Linked DNA regions of Homo sapiens: region 1 is linked to region 2. The links come from fine-mapping of genetic effects on gene expression. A gene starts in region 2. The other region holds a variant in brackets. All regions are shown on one strand. Distances are from middle to middle. Region 1 has its middle 56 kb from the start of PSMA1. Region 2 holds the start of COPB1 (coat protein complex I subunit beta 1).

Region 1 (9,035 bases), 77 kb before region 2:
GAACTGAGGGCTCCTAATCTTCTTAAACAACCCCCATTATGCCTCCAAACTGGATAATCTCTCAGTTTCCTACAATTCCCTCTTCTTGTGCCTCTTCCAGACTTACTCCCTTGTGTTCTTCTCTGCCTATGGCTCCAGTCTGACAGGCTTAAGATCTAAAGCCTGGATCCCACTATCACCAAACCAAGTATGTATTTCAGACTTGAAGCCATAATGATCTGATCCTTTCATTTTTCAGCAAATGTTTATTAAGCACTTACTAGGCACTGGAGATTTAGGGATGAGTATGACACAGTTTTATCTTTCTAGAAGCTCTCAAAGTACTGGACTCAGGGGAAGTTAAGATGGGACACAAGGCCAACAGTTCCTATGAATGGAGTGACTTAGAATCACAGCAGAGGCAGATGCCAACTTATTGAAGAGAATAAGGAGGCTTTTTAATGCAGGACAGAAGATGGAGTGGCAGGAAAAGTGGTCTTGAGGTGTAGCAGGAATTATCCAGCAGAGAATAGCATTCCAAGCAGATGGAACAGCATGTTCAAGGCTAGGAAGGCAATAAAGGATAAGACGTGTTTGAGAAATAGCAAGAATTTTAGTATGGCAGGAGCAGACAGTCTTTGAGGGAGAGTGGTGAGAGATGATTCTAAAATAGTAGGTAGAAGCCAGCTTGTGAAATCCTTGTGTGTTGTGTTCTGGAATCTGAAAATCATCCATTATTCATAGACAGCCAATGAGATCTCAAGCGAGAGTGACATGATTACATTTGTATTGCAGACAGATCACATGAGCAACAGTGTCGCTCTCTTGTAGTAATCAGATCTTTCTTTCCAGCCCTGCTCTTTGGATTTGAGGTTCTTCAGATCAACCCAATTTGTGGCCTCCATTATCACTGCAGACAGATTTTTCTCTCCCTTTCCTCAGCACACAATCAGTGTACCTTGAAGTTCCCTCTTACCCATCCATCAGCCTGGGAATGGCATTTCCTCAGAGAAGCAATTCTCAAACACATGTGGGTGTGTAGCTTGTAGGAAGGATATATCATGTTCACTTGGAGGGCATTTTCAAAGTACATGTGCCTTTGCATCACATGCCCCTCTTGCTCTGAAATTCTAATAGGCCAAAGGTTTGAGGGGGGTTTCTAGGGGAACTAGCATTTTGTAAAAGTTTATTCTTTTAAAGAATAGAGATCTAGACATGGAAACTCTAATCAAGACATACTCCTCTCAATTCCTTAGTTGTTATTAAAATACTACAAAATCTGCATTTATATTATAATAGTGACACCTCTTATAGTTGGTCGAAAGTTGGCCCCAAAAAGGATGTGTCCATGTCCTAATACTTGGCCCCTGTTAATGTTACCTTATTTAAAAAAAAAAAAAAAAAAAAAAAGTCTTTGCAGCTGTAATTAAGTTAAGGATCTTGAAATGAGATCATCCAGATGGATTTTAAATCCAATTCCAAGTATCCTTATAACAGACAGAAGAGTAAAAGACAAAGACAAAGAGGAAAGGCCATATGAAGATGAAGGTAGAGATCGCCGTTACGTAGCTAGAAGCCAAAGAATGCCTGGAGACATCAGAAGCTGGACAAGGCAAAGAAGCATTCTCTTCTAGAACCTTCAGAAGGATCATGGCCCTGCCAATACCTTGATTTCAGACTTCTGTCCTCTAGAATAGTAAAAGGATAGATTTATGTTGTTTTAAGTCACGAGGTTTGTAGCAATTTGTTATGGCATCTCTAGAATGTCAACATACCTTCTTTCTAATAGGTTATACCTAATAGTTACTTTTAAGAGAGGAGACAGTTTCCAAAGTGTTGTATAATAGCATGATGTAAATGAATTTAGGCCAGGTAACTTAATCCCTTTGAGCTGGTTTCTTCACCTAATCCCATCCTCACAGAATGTTGAGATGATTCAATGAGATAAAATAAAACTACCCAGCAGACAACTGGCAAAAACCAGGCTCTAAAGGAAGTATCTATTTGAGAATAGGACTCAACACATGTTGCATAGACACTCTGGTGAAACAAGCTCTCCCAGGAGAAGGCCGGGATAATTAACATGCAATGTCTGGGCCTCTATCAGAATCTCTTTTACATGTAACCACTTACACCCATCTGGTATCAGCTCTTGTTTGTCACCAACTAACCACTGCCCTCTCCTGCAACCTTCTCTACTTCCTGTTTACGTAGATAGCTGCTTCCTGACTGACGAAACTGAATGGTTTCAGCCAGACTGCTTTTCCCCTGGACCCATGCCAAGAATACCTTCTTTACTTTGCATTTCTCATTCTGCTTTCTTCTTATAGTAGAAGCCATCATATTAATGAGTTGCAAACTGCTGCCCTGAGCTATTCCCAGCTAATCAGTTAGTCTTCTTCCTAGCTATTGGATTAAATCAGATGAACACAAGTAATAACACGTCAGGTATCATGTCTGTATCAAGAAATTTGTCCATCCTTTCTTGCTCCAGCCCTGCCAAGCTACTGACAATGATGCTTTTTTCATTTAACTGGACAAGTCATAATGCTGACACTCTCAAGCCCAGCCCTGTCCTGTTTATGTGAAGCAATTCTAACCAAGGCCAGCAGGACAACAAACAATAGGGTTAAACTTGACCAGAACTCCAGATTGGGAGACTATTTTTTTTTAATTATACTTTAAGCTCTGGGGTACATGTGCAGAACATGCAAGTTTGTTACAAAGGTATACACTTGCCATGGTGGCTTGCTGCACCCATCAACCCGTGATCTACATTAGGTATTTCTCCTAATGCTATCCCTCCCCTAGCCCCCAACCCCCCAACAGGCCCCGGTGTGTGATGTTCACCTCCCTGTGCCCATGTGTTCTCATTGTTCAACTCCCACTTATGAGCGACAACATGTGGCTGTTTAAATGATCTAATTTGTGGTTCTCAATATGAGTGAATATGCAAATCATGTTAGAGGCTCTTTCAAACAAACAGATAAACAAATATTTGGAACATGAGTTAGGCATGGATTTTTTTGTTAACTCCTAAGTGGGATAATAACTTTTCCCTCAACTCCAGGCTTATCATCCTTAACACAATAGTTAAGGATGTGAACACTGGAGCCTGACTGTCTGGGTTCAAATTCTGGCTTTGCCACCCATAAGCTGTGTGGCCTTGAGCATGTCACCTAACCTCCTTTGCCTCAATTTCCTCATCTGTAAAACAGTTGTAATAATACCTACATTTGCCAGGGAATTGTGAGGAATAAATAAGTTAACTTGTGAAGAGCACTTAGGCTATATAAATGCTATTATTACTATTACTTTTATTGTTGTTTTATAACTTCTCTGGAGAGACAGGAAGTTGGTCAGAGGGTGAGATGCCTGAATTAGTGATTTCAAGATGAGGCAGGTTGAGGTGATGTGAGGGTTCACAGTATGACAGTGGAAGTGGATAGCAGAGGTAGAATGGAGGAAAGATCATCATTGGAAGGAGAAAATTAGTAGTAGTATTAAAGCATGTTCTTTATGAGACTGGAGTACCTGAGTTCAGATCCTGCCTTCACTACTTAATGGCAGCGCAACCATGAGCAGATTACTTAATTGTTTTCTCATCTGTACCACTACAGAACCATGAGCAGATTTCTCCTCTGTAAAATGAAGATAATAATAGTGACCTATCTTATAGGGCTTTCATGGAATCAAATAAGTTAGTAAATAACATACTGATTTCTTAGAACAGTGACTGGCATTTAGCAAGTGTTAGCTCAGGATACAAAAGCAATGTGCAAAATCACAAGCATTCTTATACACCAATAACAGACAAACAGAGAGCCAAATCATGAGTGAACTGCCATTTACAGTTGCTTCAAAGAGAATAAAATACCTAGGAATCCAACTTACAAGGGATGTGAAGGACCTCTTCAAGGAGAACTACAAAACACTGCTCAACGAAATAAAAGAGGACACAAAGAAATGGAAGAACATTCCATGCTCACGGATAGGAAGAATCAATATCATGAAAATGGCCATACTGCGCAAGGTAATTTATAGATTCAATGCCATCCCCATCAAGCTACCAATGACTTTCTTCACAGAATTGGAAAAAACTACTTTAAAGTTCACGTGGAACCAAAACAGAGCCTGCATTGCCAAGACAATCCTAAGCCAAAAGAACAAAGCTGGAGGCATCATGCTATCTGACTTCAAACTATACTACAAGGCTACAGTAAACAAAACAGCATGTCACTGGAACCAAAACAGAGATATAGATCAATGGAACAGAACAGAGCCCTCAGAAATAATACCACACATCTACAACCATCTGATCTTTGACAAACCTGACAAAAACAAGAAATGGGGAAAGGATTCCCTATTTAATACATGGTGCTGGGAAAACTGGCTAGCCATATGTAGAAAGCTAAAACTGAATCCCTTACTTACACCTTATACAAAAATTAATTCAAGATGGATTAAAGACTTAAATGTTAGACCTAAAACCATAAAAACCCTAGAAGAAAACCTAGGCAATACCATTCAGGACATAGGCATGTGCAAGGACTTCATGACTAAAACATCAAAAGCAATGGCAACAAAAGCCAAAATTGACAAATGGGATCTAATTAAACTAAAGAGCTTCTGCACAGCAAAAGAAACTACCATCAGAGAGAACAGGCAACCTACAGAATGGGAGAAAATTTTTACAATCTACCCATCTGACAAAGGGCTAATATCCAGAATCTACAAAGAATTTAAACAAATTTACAAGAAAAAAACAAATATACAAGAAAAAATCAAACAACCCCATCAAAAAGTGGGCAAAGGATATGAACAGACACTTCTCAAAAGAAGACATTTATGCAGGCAACAGACACATGAAAAAATGCTCATCATCACTGGCCATCAGAGAAATACAAATCAAAACCACAATGAGATACCATCTCAC[A/G]CCAGTTAGAATGGTGATCATTAAAAAGTCAGGAAACAACAGGTGCTGGAGAGGAGGTGGAGAAATAGGAGCACTTTTACATTGCTGGTGGGACTGTAAACTAGTTCAACCATTGTGGAAGACAGTGTGGTGATTCCTCAAGGATCTAGAACTAGAAATACCATTTGACCCAGCAATCCCATTACTGGGTATATACCCAAAGGATTATAAATCATGCTGCTATAAAGACACATGCACACGTATGTTTATTGCGGCACTATTCACAATAGCAAAGACTTGGAACCAACCCAAATGTCCAACAATGATAGACTGGATGAAGAAAATGTGGCACATATACACCATGGAATACTATGCAGCCATAAAAAAGGATGAGTTCATGTCCTTTGTAGGGACATGGAGGAAGCTGGAAACCATCATTCTGAGCAAATTATCCCAAGGACAGAAAACCAAACACCGCATGTTCTAACTCGTAGGTGGGAATTGAAGAATGAGAACACATGGACACAGGGTGGGGAACATCACACACTGTGGCCTGAGGTGGGGTGGGGGTAGGGGGGAGGGATAGCATTAGGAGATATACCTAATGTAAATGACGAGTTAATGGATGCAGCACACCAACATGGCACATGTATACATATGTAACAAACCTGCACATTGTGCATATGTACCCTAGAATTTAAAGTATTATAATTAAACTATAATAAATTTTTTTAAAATTTAAAAAAAGAAATTTATTCTGCTGGATACCCTAAATCATCTCCCCCAGGTTCAAAGTTCCACAGATCTCTAGGGCAGGGGTAAAATTCCGCCAGTCTCTTTGCTAAAGCAAAGCAAGAGTTCATCTCCAGTTCCCAACAAGTTTCTCATCTCAATCTGAGATCACCGCAGCCTGGGACTTCATTGTCCATATCACTATCAGCATTTTGGTCAAAGCCCTTCAACAGGTCTCTAGGAAGTGCTAAAGTTTCCAACATTTTCCTTTCTTCTTCTGAGCCCTCCAAACTGTTCCAACCTCTGCCTGTTACCCAGTTCCAAAGTCACTTCTGCATTTTTTAGTATCCTTATAGCAGCACCCCACTATAGTGGTACCAATTTACTGTATAAGTCCATTCTCACATTGCTGCAAAGATAATACCCAAGACTCGGTAATTTATAAAGGAAAGAAGTTTAATTGACTCACAGTTCTGCATGGCTAAGGAGGCCTCAGGAAACTTATAATTATTGTGGAAGGGGAAGCAAACATGTCTTTCTTGACATGGTGGCAGGGGAAAGAAGTGCTGACCAAAGCAGGAAAAGCCCCTTATAAAACCATCAGATCTCATGAAAACTCACAATCAGGAGATGGGGGTAACCACCCCCATCATTCAATTACCTCCCACTGGGTCTCTCCCACAACACATGGGGATTATGGGAACTACCATTCAAGATGAGATTTGGGTGAGAACACAGCCAAACCATATCACCATACGTCTTCTGAAATCTAGGCAGGGGCATCCAAGCCTCAACTCTTGCACTATGTGCACCTGCAGGCTTAACACCGTGTGAAAGCTACCAAGGCTTATGGCTTGCACCTTCTGAAGCAGCAGCCCAAGTACCTGGGTAACTTTGAGCCACATCTGGAGCTGGAGTGGCTGGGATGTAGGGAGCAGTGTGCCCTGGGCCTGACCCACAAAATCATTTTTCCCTCCTAGGCCTCTGGACCTGTGATAAGAGAGGCTGTTGTGAAGGTCTGTAAAATATCTTCAGGGTCTTTTTCCCATTGTCTTGGCTACTAGTACTTCCCTCTCTTTGAGATATGCAAATTTCTGCAGCCTCCTTTAATTCCTTCCCTGAAAATGGGTGTTTCTTTTCTACCACATGGCCAGGCTGTGAATTTTCCAAACTTTTATACTCTGCTTCTCTTTTAAATATAAGTTCCAGTTTCAGGTTATTTCTTTGTTCATGCATATGAACATAGAATTTTAGAGGCAGCCAGGGCAATTCTTGAATGTTTTGCTGCTTAGAAATTTCTTCTGCCCGATACTCTAAATCATATATCTCAAATTCAAAGTTCCACAGATGTCTAGAGCAGGGGCACACTACCGCCAGGCTCTTTGCTAATGCATAACAAAAGTGACCTTTGCTCCAGTTCCCAATAAGTTCCAGACTTTGCTGAAGTTGCTTATCAGCTTAAGGAGATTTTGGGCTGACACGATGGGGTTTTCTGGATATACAATCATGTCATCTGCAAACAAGTACAATTTGACTTCCTCTTTTCCTAATTGAATACCCTTTATTTCTTTCTCCTGCCTGATTGCCCTGGCCAGAACTTCCAATAGTATATTGAATAGGAGTGGTGAGAGAGGCCATCCCTGTCTTGTGCCAGTTTTCAAAGGGAATGCTTCCAGTTTTTGCCCATTCAATATGATATTGGCTGTGGGTTTGTCATAAATAGCTCTTATTATTTTGAGATATGTCCCATCAATACCTAATTTATTGAGAGTTTTTAGCATGAAGGCCTGTTGAATTTTGTCAAAGGCCTTTTCTGCATCTATTGAGATAATCATGTGGTTTTTGTCTTTGGTTCTGTTTATATGCTGGATTATGTTTATTGATTTGCATACATTGAGCCAGCCTTACATCCCAGGGACGAAGCCCCCTTGATCATGGTGGATAAGCTTTTTGATGTGCTGCTGGATTCGGTTTGCCAGTATTTTATTGAGGATATTTGCATCGATGTCCATCAGGGATATTGATCTAAAATTCTCTTTTTTTGTTGTGTCTCTGCCAGGCTTGGTATCAGGATGATGCTGGCCTCATAAAATGAGTTAGGGAGGATTCTCTTTTTCTGTTGATTGGAATAGTTTCAGAAGGAATGGTACCAGCTCCTCCTTGTACCTCTGGTAGAATTCGGCTGTGAATCCATCTGGTCCTGGACTTTTTTTGGTTGGTAGGCTATTAATTATTGCCTCAGTTTCGGCTCCTGTTATTGGTCTATTCAGAGATTCAACTTCTTCCTGGTTTAGTCTTCAGAGGGTGTATGTGTCCAGGATTTTATCCATTTCTTCTAGATTTTCTAGTTTATTTGCGTAGAGGTGTTTATAGTATTCTCTGATGGTAGTTTGTATTTCCATGGGATTGGTGGTAATATCCCCTTTATCATTTTTTATTGTGTCTGTTTGATTCTTCTCTCTTTTCTTCTTTATTAGTCTTGCTATCAGTCTATCAGTTTTGTTGATCTTTTCAAAAAACCAGCTCCTGGATTCATTGATTTTTTGAAGGGTTTTTTGTGTCTCTATCTCCTTCAGTTCTGCTCTGATCTTAGTTATTTCTTGCCTTCTGCTAGCTTTTGAATGTGTTTGCTCTTGCTTCTCTAGTTCTTTTAATTGTGATGTTAGGGTGTCAATTTTAGATCTTTCTTGCTTTCTCTTGCAGGCATTTAGTGCTATATATTTCCCTCTACACACTGCTTTAAATGTGTCCCAGAGTTTCTGGTATGTTGTGTCTCTGTTCTCACTGTTTTCAAAGAACATCTTTATTTCTGCCTTCATTTCGTTATGTACTCAGTAGTCGTTCAGGAGCAGGTTGTTCAGTTTCCATGTAGTTGAGCAGTTTTCAGTGAATTTCTTAATCCTGAGTTCTTGTTTGATTGCACTGTGGTCTGAGAGACAGTTTCTTAAAATTTCTGTTTTTTTACATTTGCTGAGGAGTGCTTTACTTCCAAATATGTGGTCAATTTTGAAATAAGTGCGATGTGGTGCCGAGAAGAATATATCTTCTGTTAATTTGGTGTGGAGAGTTCTGTAGATGTCTATTAGGTCCACTTGCTGTGGAGCTGAGTTCAATTCCTGGATATCCTTGTTAACTTTCTGTTTCGTTGATCTGTCTAATATTGACAGTGGGGTGTTAAATTCTCCCATTATTATTGTATGGGAGTCTAAGTCTCTTTGTAGGTCTCTAAGGACTTGCTTTCTGAATCTGGGTGCTCCTGTATTGGGTGCATATATATTTAGGATAGTTAGCTCTTCTTGTTGAATTAATCCCTTTACCATTATGTAATGGCCTTCTTTGTCTCTTTTGATCTTTGTTGGCTTAAAGTCTATTTTATCAGAGACTAGACTTGCAACCCTGCTTTTTTTTT
Region 2 (9,035 bases):
AGGCGGAGCTTGCAGTGAGCCAAGATCGCGCCACTGCACTCCAGCCTGGAGCGAGACTCTGTCTCAAAAAAAAAAAAAAAAAAAAAAGACAAAAACCATAATCCAAAATTTGGCTGCTGACATCTAGAGGAGTTATTTTATTTTCTGAGATAATACATCTTTCTGAAGAAAAATTCATTTATAGATAGTAACCCATTTTAGACCTAATTCTAATTAGCTGCTATTGGCTTTGGGCAAGTTACTTAGCTCTTTTTTAAGGAAACCCTTTGGAGAATTATAGTGAGGGTTAAAAGGGAGAATTTATGTGATAACACCTTTTAAACTCTAAAATTCATAGTTTATTTTTTCCCCCCAACTTTCCCAAATCTTCAAAAGCCTTAGTAGGTTTAAATCCCCCTGATTTCTTAGAGAATGGTAAAAGTAGCTCTGGGAGCCTTATTAAGGGAAAGATGTCTAAGTACTGGAATGTGAGAGATGTCAGTTTCTCCAGCAGTAGCCTCAGGAATCTACCATGCAAGCTTGGGAGTTAGACGCAAGTACCATGTGGCTATTTGACCTACAGTGGAGTTGCATCAAGCACATGTAACTTTCCACACACATACACACACACACACACACACACACACACACAAAATAGTGAACTCAGGAACTCCCACCTGCCTCTACACTCAATGGGTATTTAGTCTGGGGAGGGAGCATAAGTGGGAAATATAATAATCTGCCCTTTGCTTAGGCAGATCTCTCTTCCACATGCATTCCATTGGGTGAGCCTCTGTCTTTGCTGAATGATTCTGCTGTTTAAAGATATTGTGGCTCATACCTGTAATCCCAGCACTTTGGGAGGCCGAGGCGGGTGGATCACCTGAGGTCAAGAGTTCGAGACCAGCCTGGGCAACATGGCAAAATCCCGTCTCTACTAAAAATACAAAAATTAAATGGGCATGGTAGCACGCGCCTGTAGTCCCAGCTACTCGGGAGGCTGAGGCAGGAGAATCACTTGAACCTGGGAGGCAGAGGTTGCAGTGAGCCGAGATCATGCCACTGCACTCCAGCCTGGCCAGGTGACAGAGCGAGACTCTGTCTCAAAAAATAAAACCAAAGATATTGTTATGTTTATCATTGTGGAACATGCACCTGTTCCACAAATACAAACCACTAGTTGGCTTGTATTCAGCTAAAAAAATAAATATTCTGTATTATACTTTGGGAGCAATTTAAGTAATTTTTTCAATGTGATTTTTAGTCTTATATACTGACTTTAGAACTTAAAGTCCTCCCCACTCCAGTAATACTCAACCCCACTGTATATACAGTTCATTGTGATGCCCTTTCATGTTTAGTCTGTTGTACTCACATATTCCATTTAGTCTGTTGAATAATTACAAACAGTAAAATCCTAATGATGTTTTATAAAGCCTGTCACTTTGATACAAAGATACTCAATTCACCTGGAATTTATTGAGCATGTATGTGTGCAGCTCTGAAGAACTGGCATGGAATAAAAGGCAGTGGCTGGGTGTGTTGGCTCACGCCTGTAATCTCAACACTTTGAGAGGCCGAGGTGGGAGGATTGCTTGAGTTCAGTTCAAGACCAGCCTGGGCAATATAGTGAGACCCCATCTCTACAAAAATTTTTAAAACTTAGCCTGGTGTGGTGGCACACACCTGTGGTCCCAGCTACTCAGGAGGCTGAGGTGGGAGAATCACTTGAGTCCAGAGTCTGAGGCTGCAGTGAGCTATGATCATGCCGCTGTACTCCGGCCTGGGTGACAGAGTGAGACTCTTGTCTCAAAAAAATAAAAATAATAACGTAGATGACAGGATTCAGGTCCTAGTTCTAACTCAGTGTTTGGCCATTACATGATTTGGGGCAAGTCCCTATTCTCTAGGCCTTGACTTTTTAGATACCACAATTTCTATGGTCCTTGATAAAATGACAAGGTCTTTGCTCTGCATTTATAATTTAAAGGCATTCAAAATTATATAATTACATCTTAGAGTAAAACAGCCCAAACAAAGTGTATTTTACAACAGATCAGGAAGAGTTAATGAGGTTAATATTAAGGTCCTTATACCCATTCAAAAAGCTTTGTACTTAAGAATATGGAAAAATATATGCACTGCCAATGACAATTGTAGGTTCAGATCTAACTAAAGTAATATGTAAAACATTACATTTTCTTGCCTTTTCATATTTAGAACTTAATGACTTGGGGTCATGAGAAACCTCAAAGTTATTCTGTAACAGAATGAACCTCTGGGGCAAATGAAGTCTGTACGGTTTAAGTCCTACACCATGATGGCCCTAAACTGAGCTTTCTTACTGTAAATCTAGTTTTTATACCTTTTTTGGCCTCATTTCTTGCTGACAGATTGTCACTTTTTGGTAAGTTAAGTGGGCTTGGAAACCAGATAACTGCATTTGTAAAACTTCCATGTTAAAAACGAATACACAGAAAAGGAACAAACTGTTGTACACACACCCGGGATTGATCTCAGGGGAATTATGCTCAGTAAAAAAATCCAATCTCAAAAGATTACATTGTATAATTCCATTTATATAACATTGAGATGATAAAAATCATAGAGAATTATTAGTGGTTGCCACAGGTTAGTGTGGGAGGTGGCTATGGCTATCAAAGGACAGCATGAGAATCCTTGTGATAGAACTGTTCTGTCTCGACTGTGTTGGTGATTACACACATATAAGCATGATAAAATTGTCTACAAGTGAATATAAAAACGAGTACATGTAAAACTAGTGAAGTCTGAACAAGGCTGGGTGAATTATGTCTGTCAATTTCCTGAAATTGATATTGTACTATAACTATGCAAGATGTTACCATTGGGAGAAACTAGGTAAAGAGTATATGGGATCTCTGTATTCATGTCACTCTACCATTAAGATTAAATATTAAAAAAAATGAATGCACAGAATCAGAGAGGCACTCTTAAAGTGCTGTCAACACATGGCCTTTGAATACAATTTTGGGTGCTCAAAGAATTTGTAGATTGCTTGATGGTTCTAAAAAGAGAAAGCTCAAAAGAGCTAGATCCTACATAAATGAGGTACTATTGGTGTTCCATCTTCCTGAGATGAACCTGTTAACTAGGGCAGTTGCCGTCAGATCTGTTTTTATTCGCAGTATTTTGCTTAAGCTTTAAGATATTTTGTTATTAATAATTGGCCATAAAACCCTTTTGTGGGCAGAGGGAGGTGTAGGGGCGGGGCGTGCTATGGAACTTCAAATGGGCAAAACCGAAAGTACTATGGCTGATTGCAGCTGTAACAGGTCTTTGGAGATACGTAAAATCCTTTAAAACAGTGACTGTCTCCCTTTATGCATAAAAATTTTTTCTAATCTACTGGGTGCTCAGAAAGGATCACGGAAAGAGGCCATTATTAAATAAAAAGCAGAAATTATACCAATGTGACTTTGGATTTTCAAATAACTCCAGCCCTACCTGCAGAGAGGCAGATTCAAACTACTAGCGATGTTAAGAACTGAAATGGATTTTAATCTAGTGATAATTAATAAAATAACTGAATTACCTTCCCAATAGTATTAGTTACTTTCCCAGTTTATTAGGGTGTGGACAAGAAAAAGGATTACTGGGTTTCCACTTTCTAGTCCAGAGCTCTTTTTCACGGGAACAGAGCCCTGTAAAAGTTTCCCTCTCTCCAAGCACTTTCTCCCCTTGACTGTTCCTGAAGAAGGAACGATTTCCAGTTAGCGTTTAAATTAGCATAGTGCTTAACTCAGAGCTTGGCTTGCAGGGAAAACTAGAAAATACGTGGTTTCATTGCTCTGCGGCCTAATCAAACCCTGGACAAGAGAAGAGGAAGAAAATAGGATATACTTGCAGCGCGCAAGCGCTGCACAAAGAAAGCATGTCCTCTCTGAGTCGCCGTAGGTGCTAGGTGGCTGTGGCTTCGGTCGTTACCCCACCCCCTTCCACGTCAGCCAAGGACTCTGGAGCCGCCGCCGCCGCTGCTGCGGTTCATAGCCGGAGTAGACGGAGCCGCAGTAGACGGATCCGCGGCTGCACCAAACCACTGCCCCTCGGAGCCTGGTAGTGGGCCACAAGCCCCCAGTCCCAGAGGCGTGGTGGGTCGGGCAGAGTCGGAAGAACTGGCTTTCTAGCTGGAAGATGCGGAAGGGGAGCGACTAGGCCGCTTGCGTCTGGGCCTGGCAGAAGGGACCGGGTGGGGGTACGGGTGGGGGTGCGGGTCGGGGTGGGGGCGGAGGGCTAGGAAGCTCCGGGTCGGACGCTCCATCCCGTCCTTTGTATTGGCCGGGGGTCTTTTCCCTCCCAAGACCCCTAGGCGTACCCTTTCAGGCCTAGGGCTGCTTTGCTGGAGGAAGGGGAGGAGGAAGCGGGTGGGGCGAGGTGGGGGTGCAGCGCGTTGATTAAGGGACCCGCGGACATAGAGTCGGAACCCACCAAGGACCGCGATAAAGCGCTTTAGGGTTTTGGCAGAGTATTCAGGCACAAGGTCTCTTAACTTGAGCATGCAGATTGTGTGTTGTGTAAAAACCATACGGTCCATAACATTGTGGGGTGTGGCTGGGGGGACTGTCACTGTTCTGTGGGCCTTCATTCGGCTATACAGCATTCTCAAACACTGGACCGGGATGCGATGAGGGAGTGATAGATAATATACCTTATGCCAGAGCTGATAATGTGGTTTTTACTAGAATTTATTTTTATGGGAACACGATATAGATTGACCTGCCCTTTCTAATACTTTAAAAGGTCACTATAGGTACTTGTTTGTGGGTTTTTTTTTTTTAATTTGTAATGATATGTCTGTGTTTATTTTTCTAGATTTTCTGGCATCCTTAAATCTTGTGTCAAGGATTGGTTATAATATAACCAGAAACCATGACGGCGGCTGAGAACGTATGCTACACGTTAATTAACGTGCCAATGGATTCAGAACCACCATCTGAAATTAGCTTAAAAAATGATCTAGGTAAACTTCGATATTATTTTGAGAATGAAATGAAAAAAGAAAAAACAAAAATAAAAAACTCATATTTCATATTCCTTTATAATTAGAAATGCTTAATTTTTGTCTAAAGTTTTTCTAGGATCTCTTCGATAGACCTTTTATTAAAAATGCGAACTTCTTTAAATATTGGTTGTTTGAAATAGAACATCTCAGTTTATCTTAGTAAACCTAAAGAAATTGTAATAGTTTAGATATTCCTCAAAATGTCATAATTTTTGTAGACTTCAATATATTAATGTGGCTGATTATTTTCTCTAGGCAACAGGTTGAGGATGTGTATTGGAATATCTTAATTCCATCGTGCACTTAACTTCATGTTACTTAGCTTGTAAAACCAAAAGAACTTTGTTCTTTGGATTACCCACCCAAACAATTAGGTGAACACTGGAATAAACATGTATTTTCCAGAAAAGTTTACCTTTTCATTTTTTATGCATTTTTGCAAATAAGAAAACAACTATATTTCTGAACTTTTTGTAATGTTTAATTTTTGGGGGTACACAGTAGATGTATATATTTATGGGGTACATGAAATGCTTTGATACAGGCATGCAATACATAATTATCACATGGAAAAATGGAGTATCCATCCCTTCAAGCATTTGTCTTCTGTGTGACAATCCAGTTACACTTTCAGTTATTTTTAAATGTCCAATTAAATTATTATTGACTGTAGTTACCCTGTGTGCTATCAAATATCGGGTCTAACTCATTTTTTCTGTACCCATTAACCATCTCCACTTCCCTACCACTACCCTTCCCACCTCTGATAACCATCCTTTTACTCTGTCTCCGTGAGTTTGTTTTGATTTTTAGCTTCCACAAATAAGTGAGAACATGTGAAGTTTGTCTTTCTATGCCTGACTTATTTCATGTAACATAATGACCTCCAGTTCCATCCATATTTTTGCAAATGACAAGATCTCATTCTTTTTTTATGGCTGAATAGTACTCCATTGTGTATATGTACCACATTTTCTTTATACATTTATCTGTTGGTGGACACTTAGGTTGCTTTCAAGTTTTGACTGTTGTAAACAGTGCTGCAACAAACATAGGAGTCCAGATATCTCTTTGATGTACTCATTTCCTTTCTTTTGGATATATACCCAGTAGTCGGATTGCTGAATCGTATGGTACCCCTGTTTTTAGTTTTTTGAGGACCCTCCAAACTGTTCTCCATAGTGGGTATACTAGTTTACATTCCCACCAACAGTGTACGAGGGTTCCCTTTTCTCCACATCCTCTCCAGCATTTGTTTTTGCTTGTCTTTTGGATAAAAGCCATTTTAACTGGGGTGAGATGATATCTCATTGTAGTTTTGATATGCATTTCTCTGATGATCAGTGATGTTGAGCACCTTTTCATATGCCTGTTTGCCAATTGTATGTCTTTGTGAAATGTCTGTTCAAATCTTTTGCCCATTTTTAAATCAGATTATGAGTTTTTTTTTTTCCTGTAGAGTTGTTTGAGCTCCTTACATATCTGGTTATTAATCCCTTGTGAGATAGGTAGTTAGCACATATTTTCTCCCATTCTGTGGGTTGTCTCATCACGTATGTCGATTGTTTCCTTTGCTGTGCGGAAGCTTTTTAACTTGATGTGATCCCATTTGTCCGTTTTTGCTTTGGTTGCCTGTGCCTGTGGGGTATTATTCAAGAAATTTTTGGCCAGACCAGCGTCCTGGAGATTTTTCCCAATATTTTCTTGTAGTAGTTTCATAGTTTAAAGTCTTAGATTTAAGCCTTTAATCCATTTTGATTTTATTTTTGTGTAAGTTGAGAGATGGGGGACAAGTTTCATTCTTCTGCACATAGTTTTCCAAGCACCATTTATTGAAGGGACTGTCTTTTCTCCAATGTATGTTCTTGGCACCTTTGTCAAAATGAGTTCACTGTAGGTGTATGGATTTGTTTCTTGGTTCTGTTATTTTCCATGGGTCTTTATGTCTGTTTTTATGCCAGTACCATGCTGTTTTGGTTACTGTAGCTATGTAGGATAATTTGATGTCAAGTAATGTGATTCCTTCAGTTTTGTTCTTTTTGCTTAGGATAGCTTTGGCTATTCTGGGTCTTTTGTGGTTCCATATAAATTTTAGGATTTTTTTTTTTTTTCTGTGAAGAATGTCATTGGTATTTTGATGGGAATTGCATTGACTCTAGATTGCTTTGGGTGGTATGGACATTTTAACAATACTGATTCTTCTAATCCATGATCATGGAATATCTTTCCATTTGTTGATGTTCTCTTCAATTTCTTTCATCAGTATTTATAGTTTTCATTGTAGAAATCTTTCATTTATTTGGTTAAATTAATTCCTAGGTATCTAATTTTATCTGTGGGTATTGTAAATGGGATTAGATTACTTCTTCAATTTCTTTTTCAGATTGTTCACTGTTGTCATATAGAAATGCTACTGATTTTTGTATGTTGATTTTGTGTCCTGGAACTTTACTAAATTTATCATATTTCTGAATTTTAAAAATGTATACCGTGTCTCCTTTTTGTGAGTGATTCTGTCAAGAAAAAAAAAATTTATAATTAATATGCTTTCCAAAGTAATGATTCTTGTTTAATTGAACTGCTAAAAATAAATACAACTTAAACTGATAAATATTGTTTAAACAGAGCAGAGTGAAAATTATGCTTCAAATATAGAAAGGATCTTTTAGAAGATAGTTTGCAGTTTGAAAAGAAACTTAATATTTTACTTGCCTATTCCCACTTCTTAATCAGCAGTAATGGAATACCTCCTGATTCTAGGTTACTTAATACTAGGTTTCTATTGAGGTCTATTTTTAGAGAAGGGAAAAGAAACCCAGTTTTATGATATTTAAAATGATACCATTATATACATAAGCCACATATATTTCCCTTTTTTCATGTTCATGTAGGATAGTTGAATGCAAAATAGTGAATACATTCATTAGTGTTTTTCCTCATAATTTAAAAATTTTCATTGTTAGATCCTCAGGATACCTAAGGTTATAGCTAGGAAGGTAAAGAATAAAATCTGCCCTTAGTTGGAACAATGCCCTAGTCTTAATTGAAGCTGCCTTAGCTACCTTCCTCCAACCAATAAATAAATACATACTCTCCAGTTTAATGTATATTTTTGCCATTAAGAAGAGTTGAGACTGGGCATGGTGGCTCATGCCTGTAATCCCAGCACTTTGGGAAGCTGAGGCAGGTGGATCACTTGACTTCAGGAGTTCGAGACCAGCGTGGCCAACATGGCGAAACCCCATCTCTAGTAAAAATACAAAAATTTTAAGTGGCTATTAAATGAAGAGTTCTGTGGGCCAGATGAACCACCGCATCTGACGCTCAGAACTCTGTTTCATAGCCGCTTAGCTCTAATCATTAGAAATGTATTTCTCATATTTAGGCCCAAATCTGGTTCCCGGTAACTACTACCCATTAGTTGTAGTTCTTTTCCTCATAATGGCCCTAAGGTTATTGAAGACTTGTAATCATTCTTTGTTCTCCCCTTCCCAAGATAATTCATTTATTTTGATGATCTAAACAGTTGTAGTACAGTGTGCTACTACATACTTCTCTGCCTTTGAGTTTTGGATCCAGAAGATTTTTAGTACTATAAATTCTTCAGTATGCAATGATAATGGTGTGAAATTTTAGATAGTTTTGCGTAAAATACTTTATGTTGCAGAGTTTTTAGGCTAAATAACAGTAAACTAGCATTTTATCTTTAATGTGTCATCCTTAATTCTAAATAATGACTACTAATCTAGAACATTTGAATTACCTCCCAGTTTTCCAGATGATATCTTAAGAAAGATTCTAAAGTTTTACAGCCTGCCTGCAGAACTATGATGAGATTTTAGAAATAATCCACTACTTTAGTTTTCAGCCTTTTTGAGTATGACGTTTCTCTTTCTAATGTTAAAAAAGTTACATATTTATCCTCCCATAATAGTAGTTTTAACTTTGTTAAAATGCACACAAATAGCTAAAAGCTGTTTTGAATTCAAAATCAATTAATAGTATGTATTTACAT

The links.
Region 1: its variant is fine-mapped to the expression of COPB1 in lung (TOPMed, PIP 0.94).

The regions. Positions count from the first base shown.
Region 1 is chr11:14,571,841-14,580,875 of GRCh38, reverse strand. It overlaps a transcript of PSMA1 not described here. Among named protein-coding and RNA genes, the nearest start is that of PSMA1, 56 kb to the right of the region's middle. The variant A/G (reference allele first, on the strand shown) is at 4,916.
Region 2 is chr11:14,494,781-14,503,815 of GRCh38, reverse strand. COPB1 (coat protein complex I subunit beta 1) reads left to right here and starts at 4,005. Exons shown (of 22, transcript NM_001144061.2): 1 at 4,005-4,109; 2 at 4,831-4,978. The coding sequence starts at 4,888. RefSeq lists an enhancer at 3,784-3,883.